5 separate regions of the Homo sapiens genome follow, and regions 2, 3, 4 and 5 are each linked to region 1. Evidence: fine-mapped expression QTL. A gene starts in region 1. Each other region holds a variant in brackets. All regions are shown on one strand. Distances are between the middles of the regions. Region 1 holds the start of FCER1A (Fc epsilon receptor Ia). Region 2 holds the start of OR10J1 (olfactory receptor family 10 subfamily J member 1). Region 3 has its middle 11 kb from the start of OR10J1. Region 4 has its middle 37 kb from the start of OR10J1. Region 5 overlaps LINC02819 (long intergenic non-protein coding RNA 2819).

What was found.
Region 2: its variant is fine-mapped to the expression of FCER1A in whole blood (TOPMed, PIP 0.92).
Region 3: its variant is fine-mapped to the expression of FCER1A in whole blood (TOPMed, PIP above 0.99). The same link has a PIP of 0.9 or more in blood mononuclear cells.
Region 4: its variant is fine-mapped to the expression of FCER1A in whole blood (INTERVAL, PIP 0.99).
Region 5: its variant is fine-mapped to the expression of FCER1A in whole blood (TOPMed, PIP above 0.99).

Annotation. Positions count from the first base shown.
Region 1 is chr1:159,300,175-159,305,279 of GRCh38, reverse strand. It overlaps FCER1A (Fc epsilon receptor Ia), which reads right to left and starts at 2,944. Exons shown (of 5, transcript NM_001387280.1): 1 at 2,861-2,944; 2 at 2,406-2,426; 3 at 1,098-1,352. The coding sequence starts at 2,915.
Region 2 is chr1:159,438,361-159,443,470 of GRCh38, reverse strand. It overlaps OR10J1 (olfactory receptor family 10 subfamily J member 1), which reads right to left and starts at 3,749. Exons shown (of 1, transcript NM_012351.3): 1 at 2,504-3,749. The coding sequence starts at 3,679. The coding sequence ends at 2,750. The variant G/A (reference allele first, on the strand shown) is at 1,986.
Region 3 is chr1:159,448,253-159,453,362 of GRCh38, reverse strand. No RefSeq gene overlaps it. Among named protein-coding and RNA genes, the nearest start is that of OR10J1, 11 kb to the right of the region's middle. The variant G/T (reference allele first, on the strand shown) is at 3,003.
Region 4 is chr1:159,400,233-159,405,342 of GRCh38, reverse strand. It overlaps a transcript of OR10J1 not described here. Among named protein-coding and RNA genes, the nearest start is that of OR10J1, 37 kb to the left of the region's middle. The variant T/A (reference allele first, on the strand shown) is at 2,850.
Region 5 is chr1:159,468,840-159,473,949 of GRCh38, reverse strand. The region is part of intron 2 of LINC02819 (long intergenic non-protein coding RNA 2819); the gene reads right to left. Among named protein-coding and RNA genes, the nearest start is that of LINC02819, 5.3 kb to the right of the region's middle. The variant G/A (reference allele first, on the strand shown) is at 2,816.

The DNA of each region.
Region 1 (5,105 bases):
ATTTTGAAAGGAAATATCGCTAGCATAATAAGCATAATTAATTTAGGACCAATCCTTTAGGACTTCTCTAGAACCTACTCCAGGGAATAAAGAAGCTATTCTACATTGCTTTAGTTTGTGTTTGGAATTTACATATGGAGGTTGAAACATTTTTTTTCACTCAAGAGAAAAATATAGAGTATAAAAGAGACCTATTGGTCACTATTCAAAATCATTAATTTGTTTATTCAACATTTGCTAATTAAGCCACATGTGCCTAAGCATGCTATGCTATTTGTTGGCAGTAGGAGTGATAAAAATGAAACAAGCATGAAATATGTGTTCTTAAGTAACAACAGAGGACATAAGGAAATGTACCCAGATATGTTTCATAACGAAGAGTACAACCTAATATTCAGGTCCTGCCATATGGATTATGCAGAGCAAAACTTTAAGTCAAACCTTTTGATCCTATTCCAGATACACAGCTCTTTGAAATGTTCACATATATGTCATGCTGTTTGACCACATAATATATACCTGAATCTAGGCAGAAAAGATAGAGGAAAATAGGGTGGAGGAATAATATTGAGAGATGACTAGAATATTGAAAGAAGGCATACAAGTAATCAAAAGGGAAGGGGGTAGAAGAAAAGAGATGCAGGGGTCTTTTTTATTTATTTATTTATTTTTTGAGACGGAGTCTTGCTCTGTAGCCCAGGCTGGAGGGCAGTGGCGTGATCTCAGCTCACTGCAACCTCCACCTCCTGGGTTCACACCATTCTCCTGCCTCAGCCTCCCGAGTACCTGGGACTACAGGTGCCCACCACTACGCCCGGCTAATTTTATATATATATATTTTTTAGCAGAGATGGGGTTTCACCATGTTAGCCGGATGGTCTCGATCTCCTGACCTCGTGATCCACCTGCCTCAGCCTCCCAAAGTGCTGGGATTACAGGCGTGAGCCACTGTGCCCAGCCAATGCAGGGGTCTTAAAAATGAGAGGCCTTGAATCCCACTCTGGTGTCCTAACCCTTGGAATAACCTGTTTTTTCCCATCTTCAGATGAGCCATCCCTCACATGAGAGATCTGTATTTCCATATCCCTGGAACTTACCACTGAAGACTTCCAGGTACACAGGTTCACTCTCATTAACTTGTTGGTGCTGACATTTGTATTCTCCACTGTCTTCAAATTTGGCATTCACAATATTCAAACTTGAATTTGTCTCTTCTGAAAGGCTGCCATTGTGGAACCATTTGGTGGAACTGACTTCAAAGAAATTGTTCCCATTACATGTAAGAGTCACATTCTCTCCTTTAAATATTCTATTCCATGGAGGGTTCAAGGAGACCTTAGGTTTCTGAGGGACTTCAAGAAGATAAAAATATGAAAAGACATGTAGAGAGAAAAAAAGTCATTGAAAACTGTCTAGGCTTAAAAGTACAAACGAAGCAATATTCTGACAATCAGTGGTCAACCTGTCCTTATTCTGTTGGTGATAAGACCCTGTTTTGATTTCTAGGGGAAGGAGAAATTAGTATTGGTGCCCCAGGGAACGCCCAACACAGGGAGAAAGACAGGACACATATGCAGGAGATTTAAAAACAAAGAAACCAATTCACTATGTGATTTGAGCTGACTCACTCTACTTCTGTTAATTTCAATTCAGTATCTGTAAATGAGGACTGCAATCTCTTTTGAGGTAGAAACACTGTCTGCCATGTTCAACCATTGTTACATTAAATATTTATTATGTGAATGAATGAGTGAATTATGGATGGATAAATTTACTGGACTGGATGAAATATAAGGTTTCTCCAAGCTCTGAATATTTATGACTATTTAATTGTAAGTATATACAGAGTGAAAAACATATGTCAGTTCCAGAAAGTAGTGAGAGGCACTAAGAAAGTCAGTCTTGAATGGCTTCCTGGAACAAGGGGATGTAGTGCAAATTTGAACAGAGACCAAAGAAGTAGATACATGGTGATAACAAAAGGGTGATATAGTCAGAAGAGAACTGGACTTAGATCCAAGGAACTTACGTTGAAATCCAGTTCCTTAGCCATGTAACCACCAGAAAATCACTGAGTTTCAGCATCCTCAATTATAAAATGGCAATAATAATAATAATGTAATTATTGAGCGAGATCATGCCAAAGTGTCTAGGAGAGAGAATGAGACATGTATATGTGCAACAGACATGGTTATTGACTAAAACAGAGGAGAGAATGACTTGAGAGAATGCAATGAATCAGGGAAAAAAAGAAAGACAAGGCAAGGTGGAGAGGGAAAGTAGTCTGGCCAAGGAACAGATTCATGCTCATTAGAAAGCAGAAGTGATGGGACGAAGAAAATAGTGAGAGGAAAGCAATGCCCAGACATGTTGAAACACCAAGGGAACAAGAACAGAGGACTCACCTGCTAACACGCCATCTGGAGCTGCAAAAGTCCAGAGAGGATACATTAGTGTCCAGCAGTCTTCTTTATCTCCAGAGGACTAGAATCTGGGTGTGGGGATAAGATCTACATCCATGGAATTTTAAGGACCAACCGTCTTTTCAGGAATCAGAATCAGGGGAAGAAAGAGCTTCTTTCTCTCCTCTACCCTCATTTCCTTGGTAGGAAATTTGCACTCTGGAAGATGCCAGAGCAAATGCAAGGAACCAAGCTTTCAGTCTGGCTTCCTCCTTAGGTGTTGCTCAGCCCACTTGCCTCTGCTTTCTAGCTTGGCTCCACTACAGAGTCCCTGGGAAATGCCCAATAGTTTGCACATGTCCTAGAAAAAGTCACCACCCACAGTAAAGGTTCCTACCCCAGCTGCTCCCCAAATTCATTTGGGCCTCCCTGGGAGGGGTAATTGAATCTCTACTTACCGAAGAACAGTAAGGCTACACACAGTAGAGTAGGGGATTCCATGGCAGGAGCCATCTTCTTCATGGACTCCTGGTGCTTACTGTGCTGGAGAGATCTAAGGCTTCAAATATAGGCTTAAAACCAAAAAGCAGAAGGAAATGTTTTCTGTATCATATCTGGTTAACCCATCAGCTGTGCCTGGTTTTGCTTCTTTCTTTAGAGATAATATTCAGGATGGTGCCCAACTGGGCAATTTAATATTTACCCACTTACTCCACTCCCTATCCCACCTCCACATATACACCTGGAATCTGGTGAGAGAGAGGCATAGGTCTAGCACAATCACAAGCCTTTCTTAATCTGTCAATCTGTGTACAACTATTTAGTTTACAACTTAGAAAAGTGGGATGCAAGGGAGAGCAGAATAAAACAGCAGCAACTAATTACTGAATACCAAACATATGCCAGGTGTTATCCTAAATAAATCTGATATTTCATTTATTTTTCACAATAATCCTATAAAGTACATACTATCACTATCTACATTTTATAAACAGGAAAACTGAATCTTAGTGAGGTTAAGTAACTTGTTTTGGGGTGCCAACTATTAAATAACTAATTTGGGGTTCAAACACATAAAATCTAACCCCTAAGTCAAACTCTTAGTCATATGATGTACTGTTTATACATATTCAGGAGCATGGCTAGCAACTGCCAAATTCTTTTGGGATTCACCAGAGCTACCAACGCTTTTCTTGTTTAATTTCCTGCTGATCAGTTAGTGCATAAATCCACAAATTTTCATCTGATTCACTGATGATCCGCTGTCTGACCAGCGAAATTGGAAACATTTTCAGAGACTCCTCTTTCTCTACTGTGCCCTAATCTGGCTCAGAACACAGGAAGGCAGAAGTTAAACCATTACTTATGGGGATCTAGGCCATATAATTTATTTTATTTTACTTCCTAGCTTTTGTTTACTTTTAATATTATAATTTCCCAACATGATCTCCCTTTCTCCTTTAAATACACAGCAGGGGCTTTCTCCAGGATTCCTTTACTAATTCTTCTGTTTTTTTGCTCTAGGTCAAGGCTCAACCTTCTTCCAGGATCTGATATTAATGATAATACTGGAAATGAAAACTCTATTAATGTCTATAGTGGCTTGTCATTTGCAAAGATTGCTTTTAAATGAGTGTCCTATTTTATCTTTACCAAAACTCTGAAGAAGACAGGGACAGTATATTTAAACCCACTTCACATCTGAAGCACTTGAGGAACCATTCTATCATACCTTGCTCTTCCCCACAGACTGCTGAATTAAGTCTATTGAATGAAACCAGTCATTCCACATGAAGATCTAACCAAAACCTTTAGTTTTCTATGGAATTAGAAAATATAGGGCTAAAAAGGTTAATAAATAGGAATTTAAGTTTCAGATAAGAAAGATTAGGTACTGAGCCCAGGACATGCTATGTTTTAATGACAGACCTTAAAGGTAACAGCAAGTTATTTTGAAAAGTACAAGTTGTTTGTGTTTTAAGCTCTGAATTCAAATGTTCCTAATTTTTATGTGATTGAAGGTTACCTGTATAATAGGGACAATAATGGTATCCAGGTCATGGTTATATTATGAGATTTAATAAGATAAAAAAGAAGTAAAATGCATTGCACAGCATCTGACATGTGAAATATGGTCAATAAATACATTTTTTGTCTTCTTTATTATCATTATTTATTAAAGACTTATAGGAGAAATATGAATTTTGACTGGATTAAAGTTATTGTCAACCTACATAGTATGTTTAATTTGATAAACAACATCTTATGCTAGTTTAATATATCTACGCAATCTCAATCCTCTCCACAGTCACAAAGAAGAGAGCATAATCAGGAAAGAACAGAATGCAGAAAGTTGTTGGATAGGATTGGAGAAGAGAAGGAGGAGGAAATAGGGAAGATGTAGTTTTTAAGGTGCTGTCAGAGGGCAATATTTGAAGCCCTAAGCCCTGGAAGAGACGGGGAAAGATTCTACTTTACCAGTTTGTTGAGACTTTGCCAGGGGAAATTTGGGTTCCTTTTTCCTAGGACAGTGAACCTACAATCAAATTGTCCCTCAGAGAGAGTCATTTTACCATGACTCAAATAGTCTATTTAAAGGCTTCCTCTGAAGTCGTTATCTAAATAGCTCCTACTTAGATGGGAGATGGAGCAGGGCTCATCGAGAGGTACTATTCCTAGTTCGAAGAGTATAAGCTTTGGAGT
Region 2 (5,110 bases), 140 kb before region 1:
TGAAAGCAGTGATACAGAGCATGAATGATGACTAAAATAATTCCAAAAAAAGGGATTGTTGAAAACATTTGATTCCATAATGTCTGACTGTTAAGCTATTCTGTTCAAACAAGATTTCTGAAAAACCTGAGTGATAAATGTTCTAAAATTCCATGGTGATGAAATGTTCTGAGTGATGCCCAGCAGGAGCTACATAGCCTTTGGCCCCAGGAGATAGCACTACACACAGATCAAGGCAACCTTACTGTCCAGGTAACAGGCATTTATTTCACTGAACTTCAACGTGCAAAGTCCATTCTTAGCTTGATGAGATTTAGCTTTATATAGATCAGGAAAAAATATCCCGAGGCTTACATTTTTGTCATTAAATATTAAGCATACTTTGTTCATTTCTCCATCACATTGAATTACGGTGAGTTCTGCATAAACCCATCTCCCTTTCAAGACTGGAAACTATTTAAGGGATAGTACAGGGCTTATTTCAAGATTTTTTTATGTCTAGCATAGTATCTGGCACATAGTAAATACTTTATGAATGTTTATTGAATAACTGGTAAACATTTCATGAATGTTTACTGAATGCCTGTCAAAATCTTTACCAGCAATGTTTTGCTTTTTTCAGTTTTTTTTCTTGTCAGTTAACAACTTGTCTTAGTTACTTTTAGCCACCTTATGATGTTCTTAGAGAACTTTAGATATGGTTTTATTTTTGCCATTGACCTTGTTAATCCTGAAAAATGCCCTAGTAGTTCTATTATGGTCTGGAATGCAGATACATGTGTCCTTTGGATCTCGGCTGTTTTGTTTGTTTGTTCGTTCAAAGGCTTTTCTGATTAAAGAGTCCACACTTTCAGCCTAGTAGAAAGTGTGCCCTGAGACCATACTGCCACCAGGTCTGAGGCCCAGCCTAGTCACTGATTTGACAGCAAATCCTTATTCTTCCCTTGGTGCTCATCTGTATCTCAAACCCCAAATCTACATGACAGTCCTGGGACAGCCTCCACTCCATGTTCTCTATGACAGTCTGATTCAGCTTCATCTTAAGTACATAATTATTTCTGTGTATTCTCCCCAATACCTTAGTCACATTTTCTTTTTACTCATGAGCTTTTTGGCTTGCAGTCCAAAGTCTCCCTCCCCCTATATGGCTTTTTAGATATCTCAGGGGAGCTAAGTATGATAAAGATGTTAAGAATTCATATAGATGCTTCACAAACTGAATCCTAGTTCTCCTAAGTCCTGGGTAGTTCCCATATTTAAAAGTAAAAACTGTCCGGGTGCAGTGGTTCACGCCTGTAATCCCAGCACTTTGGGAGGCCAAGGTTGGTGGATCACCTGAGGTCAGGAGTTTGAGATCAGCCTGGGCAACATGGAGAAACCCTGTCTCTACTAAAAATACAAAAATTAGCCGGATGTGGTGACGCATGCCTGTAATCCCAGCTACTCAGGAGGCTGAGACAGGAGAATCACTTGAACCCAGGAGGCGGAGGTTGCAGAGAGCTGAGATTGTGCCACTGCACTCCGGCCTGGGCAACAGAGCAAGACTCTGTTTTTTTTAAAAAAAAGTTAAAGCTGAAATTCCTTAATTTGGCATATGAGGCCTTCAGAATATGACCCCAACCTACCCTTCTGGTTTTATCTCCTTCAATCCCCACCTCTTCCATGTCCTGGAGTCAGCACAACTGAATCATTTTTCGTTACCTGATCAGTCCTTTTGCTTTCATACCTGTAGCTACATTGTTTCTTCTCTTTGGAATTCTTTCTTATCATTCAGACAATCTCTTGTGTTTTAAAAACAGTTTGCATCACAGGTCCCCTCCTCTTAAGACTTCCCTAACATCTCCAACAGTCTCTCTCTCTTCCCCTTTCCTTTTCTTTCTTTTTCTGAGTTCTTCTTTAATTGTGTGTAAACACCACTTACCATAAAGAACTGAAACCATACTGTCAAATGCTTGTTTTTACCACTAGGCTTGTAGCTTCCTGAA[G/A]CCAGACAAGAAAGCTTTTTTAATCTTTATTTCTCCAGGACCTAGCACAGAGGCTAGTTCATAGCTCTTGCCCATTATGTGTTTTCTGATTTAGCCAAATTTGAAAGGATCCAGGAGTATCTCAGATTATGCCCTCAAAACACTGTCATGATGACTGTAGAATTGCCAGCATCTCTAATTAAACTGTGTATGCTCACCATCTTTAATAAGCAGTTTTGCTAGAATCTGGGATAAATTAACACATCCAGGAGAGAACATCTATTTCTCCTGGGCTATCTAATCCTGAGGCCACTTTCCCTCCCCACACAGTAACTTATTACTTGACATGTCATAAACATACTCCAATAGGGAATCCAGTTTCAGAAGCCCTGGTGCTCTAGTATAGGAAGAAAGGGATTATAGGAAAAAGATTTTAAGTGTGTCTTGGATTCTATTTTCTCAAGGGGCTTTCTATTGCCTTCATTAGGTGGAGATTCACAAAGAAACCAAAAGGTCAGTAAAAAATTCTCAGCCCATACTACTTTCTGGCCTTTTATTTAGGCATATCTTATCCTTGTTTGTCTATTTATCCCCAAAAATAGGGATAACACTCCATCCAGTAACTTTATTTAAAGCTTCAGACTCCCAGTTGTATGAAACTGCTATTCCTCTTTTGCCTCTTATTTAAGGGGCAGGTCTCTAGGAGCCAAGTGTTTGTGAGTTTACACCTCATATTCCTGCCTAGTGTGGATGTTGACAGCCTCAGGAGAACTCTTCCTACATGGTCAGGAAAACTTCCCACCAACAGCCCTGCACAGAGCATCTTTGACCTCTTTATTTCTCAGGGTGTATACCACAGGGTTCAGTAGGGGAGTGATGACAGTGTAGGTCACCGAGATCAGCTGGTCATGTTCTCTGGTGTTCTCTGACTTGGGCTTGAGGTAGGCAATGGAGGCACAGCTGTAGTGGACAATGACCACAGTGAGGTGGGATGCACAGGTGGCAAAAGCCTTCTTCCGGCCCTCAACTGAAGCAATCTTGAGGATTGTAGAGATAATGAGAACATAAGAAATGAAAACCAGACCCATAGGTACAACAAGCACCAGCACACTGATAATCAAAGTCAGGATTTCATTGACAGTGGTGTCAATGCAGGAGAGCTTCATCACAGGGCGGATGTCACAGAAGAAGTGGGGCACCTTTCTAGCACAGAAGGGTAACCTGAATACAGATGTCACTTGCGTTATTGCTACAATCAGCCCAATGCTGCAGGCCCCCAGGACAAGTTGGATACGCAGCCTCTTGTTCATAATAACCATGTATCTCAGGGGGTTGCAGATGGCCACATAGCGGTCATATCCCATTGCTGTGAGCAGGAAGCAGTTAGTGATGCCAAAGGTTACAAAAAAGAACATCTGTGTGGCACACCCTGCCAATGATATGGGCTGGCTCATACCTACGAGGCTGGAGAGCATTCTTGGGAGAATGACCAATGTATATACAGTCTCTGAAGTGGACAGCATGCTCAGGAAGAAGTACATGGGTGTGTGAAGATGAAGATCCATTCGGATGATGGTCACAATGATGATATTGCCTGCTAAGGTTAAGATGTATAGTGCAAGGAACACGCCAAAAAGGGTGATCTGCTGCTCATGGAAGCTAGAGAAACCTTGGAAAACAAAGTCAGTGATGAGAGTAAAGTTCTCTCTTTTCATGGATTGGTTCCCAAATCTGAAACATAAAAGCATAAAAGTCACATAGTCCCAGTAAAGCAGTAGAAGCACATTTCTGAAATTGATTGAAGTTCAATAGTTCTCAGTTACAAATCTGGTGATGTATTTCCTAGTGGATTAAGTTAATCCCTGGGTTTACTTATCTTTACTTAAAATATTTTTACTCTGTGACCATCTGTTATAATTTTCCATGCATCATAGAATCATATAGTCTCACTTTTTCACTGTATAACCATACATGCTCCTACTTCATATCTACTCTTCCTCCCTGACATCTGGAATGGCTTCTCTTTTCTCCTCTTATTTCTTTCCTACTCTTCAGAGATGAGTGCACATTTTCAGGCCTTCATAAAACCGTATTACACTCAGAGGTTCTCATGTTTATTTGGATTATTTTTACCCCATTATTGCTGCCTCACCTCATACAAACACTTAGCAACTTTATAATACCTTTTACATCTTTTCATATTTCACTAGCTCCAAATTATGCATGGATTGGGTGCTTGAAAATAATTTGTTTAGGGATGGACTAGTGATGTCTTTTCTTTCAAGACTATGAATCATCCTCCTTGCGCATCCTTTAAGAATTAGAAGCAAAGTAGAAAGGTTCATCTTGTCTTCAAGAAGAAAAAGGAAAATCTTAGCCAACCACCAGCCTCTCCCCACTTCTGTCTGAGTGATGGAAGTCTGCTGACAGTTCAGAGCACTGATTCACGTATGTTATAAACTATGCTACATCTTTACCTTCCCTAAACTAGAAGGCAAATTTATAGCCAATACAACTTTGTGAGTAAGCCTACACCCACTCTGCAGAGATAAACAATTGTATCAGGAAAGATACAGCAAATTTAAGTGTCCCTCACCTAAAGCAAAAGCAAACCCTGAATATAAAAAAACAGCTACACCAAAGATACATCATTTTGTTGAAGGAAGGGGATCAGTTCAATTTATGTAATATTTCACATTTTTATCTCTTTAAACAGTAAGCTTCTCTAGGGTATTTAAATTATATTCTGATTTGCTTATGCATATTCAGAAAGAGAAGTTTTGCATAAAGTAAATCACATCAATGATGAAGGTTAGTACGCACGGAGACTTTCTTCAAGTTCATAAAAATCTATTTAAAAGAAGTTGATGACCAGCTGTTAATCATTTACACTAAGAATGCTAAAAAGAAAGTAAAGCTGCAATAGAGAATATTTTCCAATAAAGAAAATCATTTGATACTAAAATATATGTCTAAAGACATTTGTCTTCTGTGAGGCTTCTGAGCAAAAACTATGTAGTAGTCCAGCCACGGAGTGGTATGGTGCCTCTATGGTGAAATCAGAAATGCTTGGCAGAGCTTTTAACTGTTACAATAATGAGCACAGAAGCTCTTGGCCATTCACGATGTGAAATGTCCTGCAAAAC
Region 3 (5,110 bases), 150 kb before region 1:
TTGATCTCAGACTGCTGTGCTAGCAATCAGCGAGACTCCATGGGCGTAGGACCCTCCGAGCCAGGTGCGGGATATAATCTCGTGGTGTGCAGTTTTTTAAGCCGGTCCGAAAAGCACAATATTCGGGTGGGAGTGACCCGATTTTCCAGGTGCGTCCGTCACCCCTTTCTTTGACTCGGAAAGGGAGCTCCCTGACCCCTTGCGCTTCCCAAGTGAGGCAATGCCTCGCCCTGCTTCGGCTCGCGCACGGTGCGCGCACTCACTGACCCACGCCCACTGTCTGGCACTCCCTAGTGAGATGAACCCAGTACCTCAGATGGAAATGCAGAAATCACCCGTCTTCTGCGTCGCTCACGCTGGGAGCTGTAGACCAGAGCTGTTCCTATTCAGCCATCTTGGCTCCTCCTCCAAAAGATGCTATCTTAACAATATTGACTATTTCAATCCAAGAACATGAAATATCTCAATTTATTTAGATAATCTTTGATTTTTCTATTCAGTGTTATGTAGTTTTCTATATCAAAATTCTACACTCTTGTTTAGATTTATGTTTATTTTATTATTTGTGGTATTTACTTCTAATTTCATTTTTTCATTACTGGTGCATAGAAAAACAATTGACTTTTGTATAGTGACCTTGTATTCTATTACATTACCATACTCATTAGTCCTGGAAGCTTTGTTTGTAGGTTCTTTGGGGTTTATTCAATAATGGCAATTGTTAATAAAGACAACACTAATTCTTTCTTCCAATCTATATACCTTTTATTTCTTTTTCTTGTCTTATTGCAGAAACCAGGACTTCTGGTAAGATGTTGAATAGAAGTGCTGAGAGGAAACATCCTTGTCTTGCTCTTGATCTTAGGGGGAAAGAATTCAGTTTCTCACCTTAAGTATAACGTTAGTTGTGGGTTTAAAAAATATTCTTTATCAAGTTGATAAAGTTCTTCTTTATTCCTAATTTGCTGAGAATTTTACTTTTTCTAAATCAGAAGTCAGCATTGGCTTTTGTCAGATGATTTTCCTGCACCAACTGACATAAACATATGATTTTTCTTCTTTATCATGTTGATTTGGTGGATTACATTGATTGGCTTTTGAATCTTGAACTAGCCTTGAAAACATGAAATAAACGACATTTAGTCATGGTGTATACTTTATCTTATATATTGTTGTATTTGATTTACTCATATTTTGTCAAAATTTTTACCTTAACATTCATTAGATATATTGTCTATGTTTTTAAAAAATATGTCTGTTTGATTTTGGTATGAAGGTAATAGTGACTTCATGGAATTACTCAAAAAACATTTTCTCTGCCTCCACTTTCTAGAAGAGACTGTGGAAAATTGGCATTATTTATTACTTAATTATTTGGTAGAATTCACCAGTAAAACCATCTGGGCCTGTTACTTTAATTTTTTGAAAGGCTAATTATTATTAAATTATTTTTTTAATACATATAAGGCTATTCAGTTTCTTTATTTCTCCTTGTGTGAGTTGTGGTACATTGTATCTTTCAAGGAATTGACCTATTTCATTTAAGTTGTTATCAAATTTCTGGGCATAGAGTTTTTCCTATTTCCTTATAATCTTCTTAATATCAGTGGGTCAGTAGTTATGGCCCCTTTTTCATTTAGGGTATTGCTAATTTGTGTGTTCTTTTATTTTTCTTCTTTCTCTTTCAAGAGGTTTATAAATTTTACTGATCTTTCCAAAGAATCAGCTTTAAACTTTGCTGATAGTCAATATCAAATGTTTTTCTACTTTCAATTTTATTGATTTCTGCTGATATTTATTTTTCTTCTGCTTGCTTTGTTTTTCTTTCCCTAGTTTCTTATGACAAGGCTTATGTTATTGATGCCAAATATTTCTTCTTTTCTATTGTATGCATTTAATGATTTAAATTTGCCTTCAAATATTACTATGTCTGCATGTCAAAAATGATAAGTTGTATTTCCATTTTCTTTCAGCTCAAAATATATTTTAAAAATTTCTCTTCAGACTTCTTCTTTGACCAATGTGTTATATAGAAATTTTCACATATGCTGGGATTTTCCAGCTATCCTCTGTTCTTGATTTCTGGTTTTAACTTCACTGTGATCTGATAACATACGTTGTATAATTTCTATTTTTAAAAATTGGTAAATGTGTGGTTTATGCTCCAGAATGTCTATCTTGGTGAATGTTTCATGTGAGCTTGAGAAGAATGTATATTCCATTGTCATTGGGTGGAGTATTCTATAAATATCAATTAGAGAAAGTGGTTGATAGTTCTGTTTAGTTCCTCTATATTCTTTCTGATATTCTGTGTTCTTAAACAATTACTGATGAAAGGGCATTTAAGTATTCACCTATAATAGATTTGGTGCTTTACCTTTTCAGTTCTAAAAGTTTTTGACTCATGTATTTTGATGTCTTTTTGCTCCAAACATACACATTTATATATTTTTTATCTTGTAGAATCAATATTTTTATCGTTATGTTATACCCTTTTTTATACTTCATAATCTTCCCAGTTCAGAATTTAGCTTTGTCTGAAATTAATATAATTGCTGCAACTTTCTTTGGATTAGTGTTAGCATGGTATATCTTTCTCCATTTCTTTATTTTTAAGCTGTGTACATGGGTTTTTATTCAGATAGAAACTATAAACAACCTATAAATGAATCCTGTGTGCCTCAACAGTCTTTTAATTAAATGTATTTGGACCATTCATATTTAAACAACCTTTAAATGAGTCTTGTTTTTTATAACCTTGACAGTCTGTCTTTTAATTGAAGCAACTGTTTTCTATTTATTGCATTTGTTCTTTGTTTGCTTTCTTCTTTTTTGTATTCTGTGGCTTATAACTCCATATTGTCTCTTAGCATACCAGTTTTTGTTCTTTTTTTTTTTTTTCCAGTGTTTGTGTCCCTGGGTACTTGAGATTAGGGAGTGGTGATGACTCTTAAGGAGCATGCTGCCTTCAAGCATCTGTTTAACAAAGCACATCTTGCACC[G/T]CCCTAAATCCATTTAACCCTGAGTGGACACAGCACATGTTTCAGAGAGCACCGGGTTGGGGGTAAGGTCATAGATCAACAGCATCCCAAGGCAGAAGAATTCTTCTTAGTACAGAACAAAATGGAGTCTCCTATGTCTACTTCTTTCTACACAGACACAGCAACAATCTGACTTCTCTATCTTTTCCCCACATTTCCCCCTTTTCTATTAGACAAAACCACCATCGTCATCATGGCTCGTTCTCAATGAGCTGTTGGGTACACCTCCCAGATGGGGTGGCAGCCGGGCAGAGGGGCTCCTCACTTCCCACAAGGGGCGGCTGGGCAGAGGCGCCCCCCACCTCCCGGACAGGGCAGTGGCTGGGCGGGGGCTGCCCCCCACCTCCCGGACGGGGCGGCTGCTGGGCGGAGACGCTCCTCACTTCCCAGACGGGGTGGCTGCCGGGCAGAGGGGCTCCTCACTTCTCAGACGGGGCGGCTGGGCAGAGACGCTCCTCACCTCCCAGACGGGGTCGTGGCTGGGCAGAGGCACTCCTCACATCCCAGACAGGGCGGCGGGGCAGAGGCGCTCCCCACATCTCAGACAATGGGTGGCCAGGCAGAGATGCTCCTCACTTCCTAGATGGGATGGCAGCCGGGAAGAGGCACTCTTCACTTCCCAGACTGGGCACCGGGCAGAGGGGCTCCTCACATCCCAGACGATGGGTGGCCAGGCAGAGACGCTCCTCACTTCCCAGACGGGGTGGCGGCCGGGCAGAGGCTGCAATCTCAGCACTTTGGGAGGCCAAGGCAGGCGGCTGGGAGGTGGAGGTTGTAGCGAGCCGAGATCACGCCACTGCACTCCAGCCTGGGCAACATTGAGCACTGAGTGAAGGAGACTCCGTCTGCAGTCTGCAATCCCGGCACCTCGGGAGGCCGAGGCTGGCAGATCACTCACGGTTAGGAGCTGGAGACCAGCCCAGCCAACACAGCAAAACCCCATCTCCACCAAAAAAAATACGAAAACCAGTCAGGCGTGGCGGCGCGCACCTGCAATCGCAGGCACTCGGCAGGCTGAGGCAGGAGAATCAGGCAGGGAGGTTGCAGTGAGCGGAGATGGCAGAAGTACAGTCCAGCTTCGGCTCGGCATCAGAGGGAGACCATGGAAAGAGAGGGAGAGGGAGACAGTGGGCAGAGGGAGACTGTGGGTAGAGGGAGAGGGAGAGGGAGCCAGTTTTCATTCTTTAAAAATTATAATAGTTATCCTGGAGTATACAATATACATTTTAAGCTAATCTAAGTTCACTTTCAAAAAACACTCTGCCTTCACATGTAGTGTAGATATCTTATAATAGTGATTATTCCCAATTCTTCCCAGCTACTTTTTGTTTATTTTATTTATTTATTTATTCCACTAACCAAGTACATTGCTACTATTATTGCTTTAAAGAAGCACACACACCCCTTAACCTAAAATAAAAGTTTTAAAAAAAACTAGTATTTTTAGTTCAGCTAAGAATAATCTACTTTCTTCCTTTTTTATGTTGATTCAAGTTTCTGACCTATATAATTTTTTCTTCATAAATATGTTATTTTAGCATTTCTTGAATGGCAAGTCTTTTGGCATTAAGTTCATTTAGTTTTGCTTGTCTGATAAAGTCTTTGTTTCTCTTTTATTTTTGAAGAATAGTTTTGCTCTCCATTCTAGGTGGCTGTGTTTTTTATTTTAACACTTTAAACATTTTACTCCACCTTCTTGTTTGCAGGGGTTTCTGATAAGGAGTCTGCATTAATTCTTATTCTCACTCCTCTGTAGTTAAGATAATTATTTCCCTCTGGCTTATTTAAAGATTTTCTCTGTCCTTGATTTTCTGAGCCTGGAATATAATATGACTCATTTGCTTAAGTGGAGTTTTTGTTTGTTTGTTTGCTTATTTTTTCATAGGAGCATTTGGTTTACCTTGCTTGGTGTTCTCTAAGATTTCTGGATCTGTGGTGTCATGCCTGTCATTAATTTTGGAAGGTTCTTAGTCATTATTATTTCAATTTTTTTATTACATTCTTTTGTTCTTCTCTTCCTGTTATTCTTATTCCGTATGTTATGCCTTTTGATATTTTCCCCCAGTTAT
Region 4 (5,110 bases), 100 kb before region 1:
CTCCTATGGGGCCTGCTCCTGGAATGTCATCACAGGTCCTGCCGAATAACACAAAAATGGAAGATTCATGTTGGATGCCTTGTAAAAAGCTTCAGATGTGTTATTCTATTTTGAGGCTAGGGAACCTTCAGAGGTGAAAATGGAAAGTGTTAATTTAGTTGTTCCTTATACAATTTCCCCCTTAGATCCACCTTTTTTCCTCATGTCTTTATTTGTTCACAAACTTTGGTATAAGTTTACTGGTTCCTCTTTCACTGGTGTAGGCATCACCCTCACCCTATGGAGCCCATGGTGAGCCATGAGTATATGCAGTTTCTCCTCGATAGTGCTACCTCATGTCTTGCACCACCATTATCATGGGGTATAAAAACGGGGAATTACCGTTTATCACACTGAAAACAAAGTTCTATATGTTTGTACATCGCTTTATAGTTTATAAGGAAGTTTCACATATAGGATTTCACCTGATCCTTAATGAACCCTATAGAGTAGGCTGGGAAACAATTATGTTATCATCCCTATCTTAGACCTGAAAATACTAAAGCACATATAGATAGAATTTATCTGCCCAGGCACACGAAACTAGACAGTTGTAGTGATAGGATTTGGATCTAGTTCTCTTATCATTGTCACTTGCTCTTTGTAATGAATGGAGTAACATGAAGCCGACACCTCTTGAGAAAAATCATGGTCTTCATTGGATAGTACAGGCAAGGCTGTCACTGTTCTATGAAGCGTGTCTACCCATTTTAGGGGAAAAAAGCATCTTCTCTAGACATTTCTGTTGAAAACTGCCATAATAATTTTACTGCCCTCTCGTAATAAATTATCACAAACCTATGATGTTTGAGCTGTAAATGATACTCCTGTATCATTTACAAATGTGGCACTGTCGCGCACTGCACAACCTGCAGAATCCTATGCTGCAATTCTGATGATGGGTGTGAAAAAGGATACTGGAAACAATAGGTGCCTAGTTCCTTTCCCGGAGTCTATATTCATTCCTGGATTGTCTAAAAGGTGGAAGACATTAAATTCTATTGCTGGCTGAAACACCTCCAGTTTCTCCAACTCAGGCCTTTTCAAGAGACTGTTCAAGTTATTTCAAAAGGTACAGTTATTTTTGACTATAGTCATCCTGTTGTGCTATCAAATAGTAGGCCTTATTTATTTTTTCTATATTTTTTGATACCCATTTACAATCCCCACCTCCCCCTCAAGCCGCCAGCTATACTTTTCAGCCTCTGGTTGCTCTCTATGCCCATGAGTTCAATTGTTTTGATTTTTAGATCCCACAAGTAAGTGAGAACATGCAATGTTTGTCTTCCTGTGCCTGGCTTATTTCATTTAATGTAATGATCTCCAGTTCCATTCATGTTGTTGCAAACGACTGGATTGCATTCTTTTTTTATGGCTGAACATTACTACATTGTGTATATGTACCACATTTTCTTTATCCATTCATCTATCGATGGACACTTAGGTTGCTTCCAAATCTTAGCTATTGCAAACAGTGCTGCCACAAACATAGGAGTACAATCTCTTCAGTATACTGATTTCCTTTCTTTTGTGTATATATCCAGCAGTTGGATTGCTGGATCATATGGTAGATTAATTATTAGTTTTTTGAGGAACCTCCAAAAAGTTCTCCATAATGGTTGTGCTAATTTACATTCACACCAGCTGTGTGCAAGTGTTCCCTTTTCTCCACATCCATGCCAGCATTTGCTATTGTCTTGTCTTTTGGATATAAACCATTTAACTGGGGTGAGATGATATCTCACTGTAGTTTTGATTTGCATTTCTCTGATGATCAATGACGTTGAGCACATTTTCATATGCCTGCATGCTATTTGTATGTCTTCTTTTGAGAAATGTCTATTCAAATCTTTTGCCTATTTTTGATCAGATTATTAGATTGTTTTCATATAGAGTTGTTTGTGCTCCTTACACATTTGGTTTATTAATCCCTTGTCACGTGGATCGTTTGAGAATATTGTCTTCCATTCTGTGGGTTGTCTCTTCACTTTGTCGAATGTATACTTTACTATGAAGAAGCTTTTTAACTTGATGTGATCCCATTTGTCCACTTTTGATTTGGTTGCCTGTGTTTGTGGGTTATTGCTCAAGAAATTTTTGCCCAGGTTAATAATGTCCTAGAGATTTTCCCCAATGTTTTCTTGTAGCAGTTTCATGGTTTGAGGCCCTAGATTTAAGTCTTTAATCCATTTTGATTTGATTTTTGTGCATGGTGAGAGATAGGGGTCTAGTTTAATCCTTGTGCATATGTATACCCAGTTTTCCCAGCACCATTTATTGAAGAGAGTCTTTTCCCCTAGTTTGTGTTCTAGGTACCTTTGTTTAAAATGAGTTCATTGTAGGTGTGTGGATTTGTTTGTGGGTTCTCTATTCTGTTCAATTCGTCTATGTGTTTGTTTTTATGACACTAGTATGCTGTTTTGGTTACTGTAGCTCTGTGGTATAATTTGAAGTCAGGTAATGTGATTCTTCCAGTTTTGTTCTTTTTGCTTAGGCTAGCTTTGGCTATTCTGAGTCTTTTGTGATTCCATATAAATTTTATGATTGGTTTTTCTATTTCTGTGGAGAATATCATTGGTATTTTTATAGGGATTGCATTGAATCTGTAGACAGCTTTGGGTACTATAAATAGTTTAACAATATTGATTCTTCCACCCATAAACATGGAATCTTTTTCCTTTTTTTGGTGTCCTCTTCAATTACTTTCATGAGTGTTTTATAGTTTTCATTATAGAGATCTTTCACTTCTTTGGTTAAGTTCATTCCTAGATAATTCATTTTATGTGTGGCTATTGTAAATGGGATTTTTT[T/A]TAAAAAATTTGTTTTTCACATCTTTGACTGTTGGCATATAGAAATGCTACTGATTTTTGTGTGTTCATTTTTTATCCTGCAAGTTTACTGAATTTGTTTATTAGTTCTAATAGTTGTCTTGTGAAGTCTTTAGGTTTCCCCAAATATAAGATCATAGCATCTGCAAAGAGGGATACTTTGGCTTTTTCCTTTCCAATTTGGATGCCCTTTATTTCTTTCTCTTGTCTGATTGCTCTAGCTAGGACTTCTAGTACTATACTGAATAACAGTGATGAAAGTGGGCATTCTTGTTGTGTTGCAGATCTTACAGGAAAGGCTTTCAGTTTTTCCCCATTCAGCTAGTATCATTCAGTATGGTACTAGCTGTAGGTCTGTCATATATGGCTTGTATTTCATTTTGGTATGGTCCTTCTATCCCCTGATTTTTAGGGGTTTTATCATGAAGGGATGTTGGATTTTATCAAATGCTTTTTTAAGCATCAGTTAAAATGATCATATGGTTTTGTCCTATATTCTTTTGATGTAATGTATCACATTGATTGATTTGCAAATGTTGAACCATTCCTGCATCCCAGGATTAAATCCCACTTGGTCATGATAAATGATCTTTCCAATGTATTGTTGGATTCTGTTTGCTAGTATTTTGTTGAGGATTTATGCATCAATATTCATAAAAAATATTGGCTTGTAGTTTTCTTTTTTTGATGTGTCTTTGTCTGGTTTTGGTATCAGGATAATGCTGGCCTTGTAGAATGAGTTTGACGTATTCCTTCCTCTTCTATGTTTTGGAATAATTTGAGTATGATTGGTATTAGTTTTTTAAATGTTTGGTAGAATTCAGCAGTGAAGCCATCAGGTCCTGGGTTTTCTTTCCTGGAAACTTTTTGTTATGGCTTCAATCTCATTACTTGTTATTTATCTGCTCAGGTTTTTTATTTCTTCTTGGTTCAATCTTGGTAGGTTGTATCTACCTAAGTATTTGTTCATTTCTTCTAGGTTTTCCAATTTATTGGCATATACTTGCTCATAGTAGCCACTAATCATCCTTTGAATTTCTGCAGTATCAGTTGCAATGCCACCTTCTTCATTTCTGATTTTATTTATTTAGAGCTTCTCTATTTTTTTCTTTGTTAGTCTGGCTAACGGTTTGTCAATTTTGTTTAACTTTTCAAAAACCCAACTTTTATTACATTGATCTTTTGTGTTTTGCAAATTTTAATCTTATTTATTTCTGCTCTAATCTTTATTATTTATCTTCTACTACTTTGGGGTTTGGTTTGCTCTTGCTATTCTAGTTCTATAAGATGCATTGTTAGATTGTTTTTTGAAGTTTTTTCTCTTTTTTTTTTGGTGCAGGCACTTATAGCTGAAAAATTCCCTCTTAGTACTGCTTTTGCTATATCCCATAGGTTTTGGTATGTTGTGGTTCCATTATTCTTTGTTTCAAGAAGTTTTCAATATTTCATTGACCCACTGGTCATTCAGGAACATATTGTTTAACTTTTATGTATTTGTATATTTTCCAAAATTTCTGATTATTCATTTCTAGTTTCATCCCCTTTTGGCCAGAGAAGATGCTTGATATTATTTAAATTTTTTGAATGTTTTAAGACTTGTTTTGTCACCTAATATATAGTCTATCCTTCAGAATGATCCATGTGCTGAGGAAAAGGATGTGTATTCTGCAGCTCTTGTATGAAATGTTCTGTAAATATCTATTAGGTCTATTTGGTCTATAGTGCAGAATAAGTCTGAGGTTTCTTTATGGATTTTCTGTCTGGAAGATCTGTCCAATGCTGCAAGTGGGGTACTGAAGTCTCCAGCTCTTATTGTATTGGGGCCTATGTTTTTCTTTAGCTCTAATAGTATTTTCTTTATATATCTTTTATATATTGGGTACTTTATATTTAAATTTTATGTAATAAATATATATTTAAATTTTATAAAATATTTATATTGAAAATTGTTATATCCCCTTGCTGAAGTGACCACTTTATCATTATATAGTGACACTCTTTGTCTTTTCTTATAGTTTTCATCTTGAAATTTATTTTGTCTTATATAACTATAGTGACTCCTGCTCTTTTTAGTTTTCCATTGGGATGGAATATCTTTTTTCATCCCTTTATTTTCATTCTATGTGTGTCTATAGGTGAAGTGTTTTTTGTAGGCAAAGATCAATGGATCTTGTTTTTTCATCCGTTCAGTCAGTCAATGTATTTTCACTGGAGAGTTTAGTCCATTCGCATTCAATGTTATT
Region 5 (5,110 bases), 170 kb before region 1:
ATGTAATTTAATTATATTTCTTTTGGACATTAATGCCAGAACTAGTCCCTGAACTCTACCTTCTAAGTTTGCGTCTCCCTCTTGTGAGGGTCTTTCTGTCGCATTTAGAGTTCTCCTGCTTCTCTGGTTTTAATTATCCATATTACAGTTTACATGAGGTATTTTTAAAAAATTCATTAAAAACATTATGAGAAACCACAAAGAAATATGACTACATCTGACTCTGATATTGGCTCTCCCACCCTGTCCCCTAAGTTATGAAACTCTGGAACATTCTGTTTTCTCCCTGTACTAATCTGAACACAGAACTTGGCACCTCTTCAAGTCTGCAAAATAATCTCCAAAAGCCTGGGTAAGCAATGATAATGGCATTCTTGAAGAGCTGTAAAAGAAAATAGATGAAGGACTTTACATTGCACCCTTAAAGCAAATCTAACACCCCCTCCAATTAGTCATTTCTAATGTTTTCCTAAATCCCTTCTCTGTTACTCAATGAATAGGTCTTCTGGCTCCCTCCTACTATTTCCTCCCTCTCTCCACTATCTTCCTGCCTCACTGGCCTCTTCCTCCGCCTCTAAGATTCACTCCTGTTAAAATTCCTCATCCCTTTAGTAAGCGGAACAATTTAATTGCTGTATTGTGTTCCTTCGGCATTTCCTTAGGGTCTCATACTCCAAAAAAAGTAATTTCTTTTGAATAAATACAAAGTCTCCCTAAGAGGAATTTTGGGAAATATGATTTTCTTCATTTCATTACACAGAATAAATTGGATAAGTTTAGAAAGTAAAGATTTCAATGCTAAGAAATTTGGTAAATATAATAAGGAGCTTTACCAAGTCTCAAACCTCCTTAGTGTAAGACAATCATTCCTCATCACATTTGGGTTGATATAGTCTACCTGCAGCTTGCACATTCCGTTCTAATAACAAGGCAGGTTCCATCTTGTTTTACACTACAAGAGCAGTTCATCAGTCTGAAGACAAGGCCAACACATAGTTTTCTCATTTATGTCCCTTCCTACCCCCATGTGTCCTTAATAATCTCCCTATGATAACAAGTTTCTTAATTTAAGGTCAAAAATAGGTCATAGTTCATTTGTGTAGCTGTGTTAATTAACCCTCCAAATTCCAAGACAAGAGCTCATCCTTGTTGGCTCACTTTATCAACTCTTCCACATTCTTCCAGTTCTTTGAAATTTATCTCTAGTATGTCTCATTTCCTAAGATGATGATTTTATCAGAACATAACCAATGTAATATTCAGTATCATACTACCATATTGAGAGTTGAGAACACTAGAATCCCAATAATAATAAAACTAGGTTTCATTTATCAGCTAGCTACAGCTCTAAGTTGCTTTATATGCAATTAGCGCATTGTAATTATCATAACTACAGAAGAGGCAGGCATTATTATGTCTATATTGTACCTAGGAAACTACGGCTTAACAAGATTAAGGTATTTCCCCCCAAAAAAAACGACATTCTATTTCCCATCAATGTGATGTTTCATTCAGGGTCCATACTCCATATACTTCCCCACTGCTCTGAAGTCCATAAAGTTCATTATAAAAGCATAGGGTTTTGGAATTGAAGGGACTTAGAGATTATCTAATCCTATATACTCACTTTACAATTACTACAGATGTCCCAACTAATTAGAGCCATTCTTACCCCAAGACTTGGTTGATAGAATATTATACATTTAGGGACATCCAGGAGGTAATGATAGTAACTTGGCTTGCAAAAAGGTTTAAAATATCTTTTTTCTTAATGACCCTAAATGAAGGCAAATGGCTTTCCAAGAACAGCTCTTTCAAGTAGGGAGCAACATATCAGCTGACTTGTTACCAGCTTTTTATTTGCATGATCAGTGTATTACCATCAACTTTTAGTAGCAGATAAAGGTATTTAAGGAATCAGCCTCAAGATGAGTAAACTTTATCGGAAAAGGCTGTCACAAGCTTGGGTAGCTGTCTTATGGGCTTATTTCTTAGTCCTTTTGGGCTGTTGTAACAAAATACCTTAGACTGGGTAATTTATAAAACAGCAGAAATTTATTGCTTATAGCTCTGGAGGCTGAGAAGTCTAAGATCAAAGTGCTAGCAGATTTGGTTCTGATGAGGGTCTGTTTCACATAGATGGCACTTGCTGTGTCCTCAGTTGGCAGAAGGGGCAAGGAAGCTTGCTTAAGCCTCCTTTATAAGGGTACAAATTACATTTATGAGGGTGCAGCACTCATGACTTAATCACTTCTTGAAGGCCCCTTCGTATCATATTGGGTATTAGCTTCTGACATACGAATTTTTGGGACCACAACATTCAGACCATAGCAGCTTTGATACTGTTTGGGTATATCATGATTAATCAGCCGGAGGGTAGTGATTGCATCAGTGGAAACAGGGAATGCTATGAAGACAAAAGTCAAGTTATTGAGCTCAAAAGATACACTGCTTACTTTGAAGTGTTTTCCAGGACTAACCCAGAACGAACTCCTCCCCATGCGGAAACCTTCCAAATGCTTTTGCCTGGTTGTTATAAATTGATCTCATATGGCACTGCCCATTAAGTTGGAGAGCACGCTACAAATATGTATTCTACAAATGTGTACTCTGTGTTTCGTAGACTTTACGGTTTTCTAGAGGATGGTATGATGCCTATCTCTGCTGAATATCAAAAAGATCTTCAGAACGGAACAAAAATTGCTTAATTATACATTGTTCTTTCCTATGGCCAGACATTCTTTTGTTGTTAGAGAGAGTCATTATGTAATAAAAAATCTTGAATTTTGGAGTAATAAAAACAAAGTGTTCCATC[G/A]TATATTCATTTACTAAAAATATTTATCAAGAGATGACTCTATGTTAGTAACTGGCAAATGTTATAAATAAGACTTGTAAGGCTACTACTCTCATAGAACACAGATTCTAGAGAGAGGAGTTAGATAATTAATACATCAATAAATGAGTAAAATAAATCTTATAAGGACAATAGGATGATAAGATTTGTGGCAAGGAGGTATTTTAGACTGGGTAGTCAGAGAAGGCCTCTCTTTGGAAGCAGCAACTGAGAAGGAAACATCATATAAGTGAACAGATAGAGGCCGATAGGTCATAATTTAGGGCAGCTATAGGTAATACATAAAGGAATGGGTGTGGGTGTGTACTAATAAGTCTTGCTTTTTTTTTTTTTTTTTTTTTTTTTTTTTTGAGACAGAGTCTCACTCTGTTGCCCAGGCTGGAGTGCAGTGGCACAATCTTGGCTCACTGCAACCTCCGCATTCCAGGTTCAAGTGATTCTCCTGCCTCAGCCTCCCAAGTAGCTCGGATTACAGGTGTGCGCCCTCACACCAGGCTAATTTTTGTATTTTTAGTAGAGATGGGGTTTCACCATGTTAGTCAGGCTGGTCTCGAACTCCTGACCTCGTGATCTGCCTGCCTCAGCCTCCCAAAGTGCTGGAATTGAGCTATCTCTCCCGTGTAAGTCTTTATTTAGAAAAACAGGCAGGGGTGCGGGAGTCAGATCTGGCCTGCAGAGGAAAGCATTTCAGGCAGGAGGAATCTGGGAAGTTGAAAGGCCAAGGCTGGGTGTGGGCTTTGTATTCTTGTATTCTTAGAAAGTAGTATGGCTGGAGGCTAGTGAGAGTGAGAGTGATAGGGTGTTGGAGACAGAGGTACAGGCCAGGTCAGGTAGGGCTTTTTAGACTTATGAAGAAATTTACATTTTATTCTAAATGCAAAAGGAAGCCACCAGAATGATTCACGCAGGGAACAGTGACACAATCTGATTTATATTTTAAAGAGGCTCTGGTTGCTGAGCAGTTACTATTTTTAGGGAAGCTAAAGTGGAAGCAAGGAGAGTCAGGAAGCTGTTACAGTAATCCTAGGAAAATACCATAGTGAAGACAGGGAGAGCTGGAAGTGTAGCAGTTTGAATTTCTCTCTTCATGGCTCCTTAACTATACATGAACTTTGAACTTCATTTCCTTCATCAGCTAAGTATAGATAAAATTCCTATTCTCTTTGTTAGGATAAAATAAGCCTATAAGGCAAATGTCCAACAAATGGTTAGATGTCGGTTATGTTAGTTCTTTCTTTTTCTTCTTTGTCTAAAGCTCATACATTTTTTTTCTTCCTTCTCCCCTTTCTTTCTTTTTCTCCTTTCCATGGATATTTGTCTCCTTCCATAGATATTTAATGGTGAACTGGTTTGTGCAAAACACAATACTTGGTAGTGGAAGATATAGAGAGATCTTGTTTTTAAACATTTATTGACTTATATAGTTGGGTGCTCAAAAAAGCAGAACCTTTAGTTTTCCCTTTAGTTTTTCTTTTCTTTACTTTTTTAGTAAGGCAAACTGCCATTTTAAAGTCCTAGCTAGTTATATAAATAATAATGAAGAAAAAATCATTTTGGAGAAGATCTTAGTTTTGGGCAGAATCAACTAAGGGTGATATACAAAAAACTCCTTACATTAAAACAAAAATTAATTTAACATTGGTTCTGAGAATATACTGGAAGTTTTATCCTGGGAAACATATGTACAATTTTTTTTTTTTTTTCGTGACAAATATGCCCCAACCCACAACCCTTGTATATATGCAGCACAAGATTACTGGGGACGATGAGGTTATTAAAATAGCCACTGTAATTAAAGTGGTCTTGATATGGTTTGGGTGTGTCCCCACCCAAAATTTCATCTTGAATTGTAATCCCCATAATCACCATAATCCCCAAATGTCAAGGAAGAGACAAGGGGGAGGCAACTGAATCATGGAGGCGGCTTCCTCCAAGCTGTTCTCATGATAGTGAGTCAGTTTTCACGAGATGTGATGGTTTTATAAGTGTTTGATAGTTCCACCTGTGTTCATTCTCCTTCCTGACACCCTGTGAAGAAGGTGCCTTGCTTCCCCTTTGCCTTCCACCACAATGCTAAGTTTCTTGAGGCCTCCCGAGACATGCTGAACTGTGAGTCAGTCAACTAAGCCTCTTTCCTTTATAAATTACCCAGTTTCAGGCAATTCTTTATAGCAATGTGAAAATGGACTAATATACAACTGAAGTCATTTGGTAAAATAAGCTTCAAGATTCCTCTTTTCATCTCTCACTGAAGGT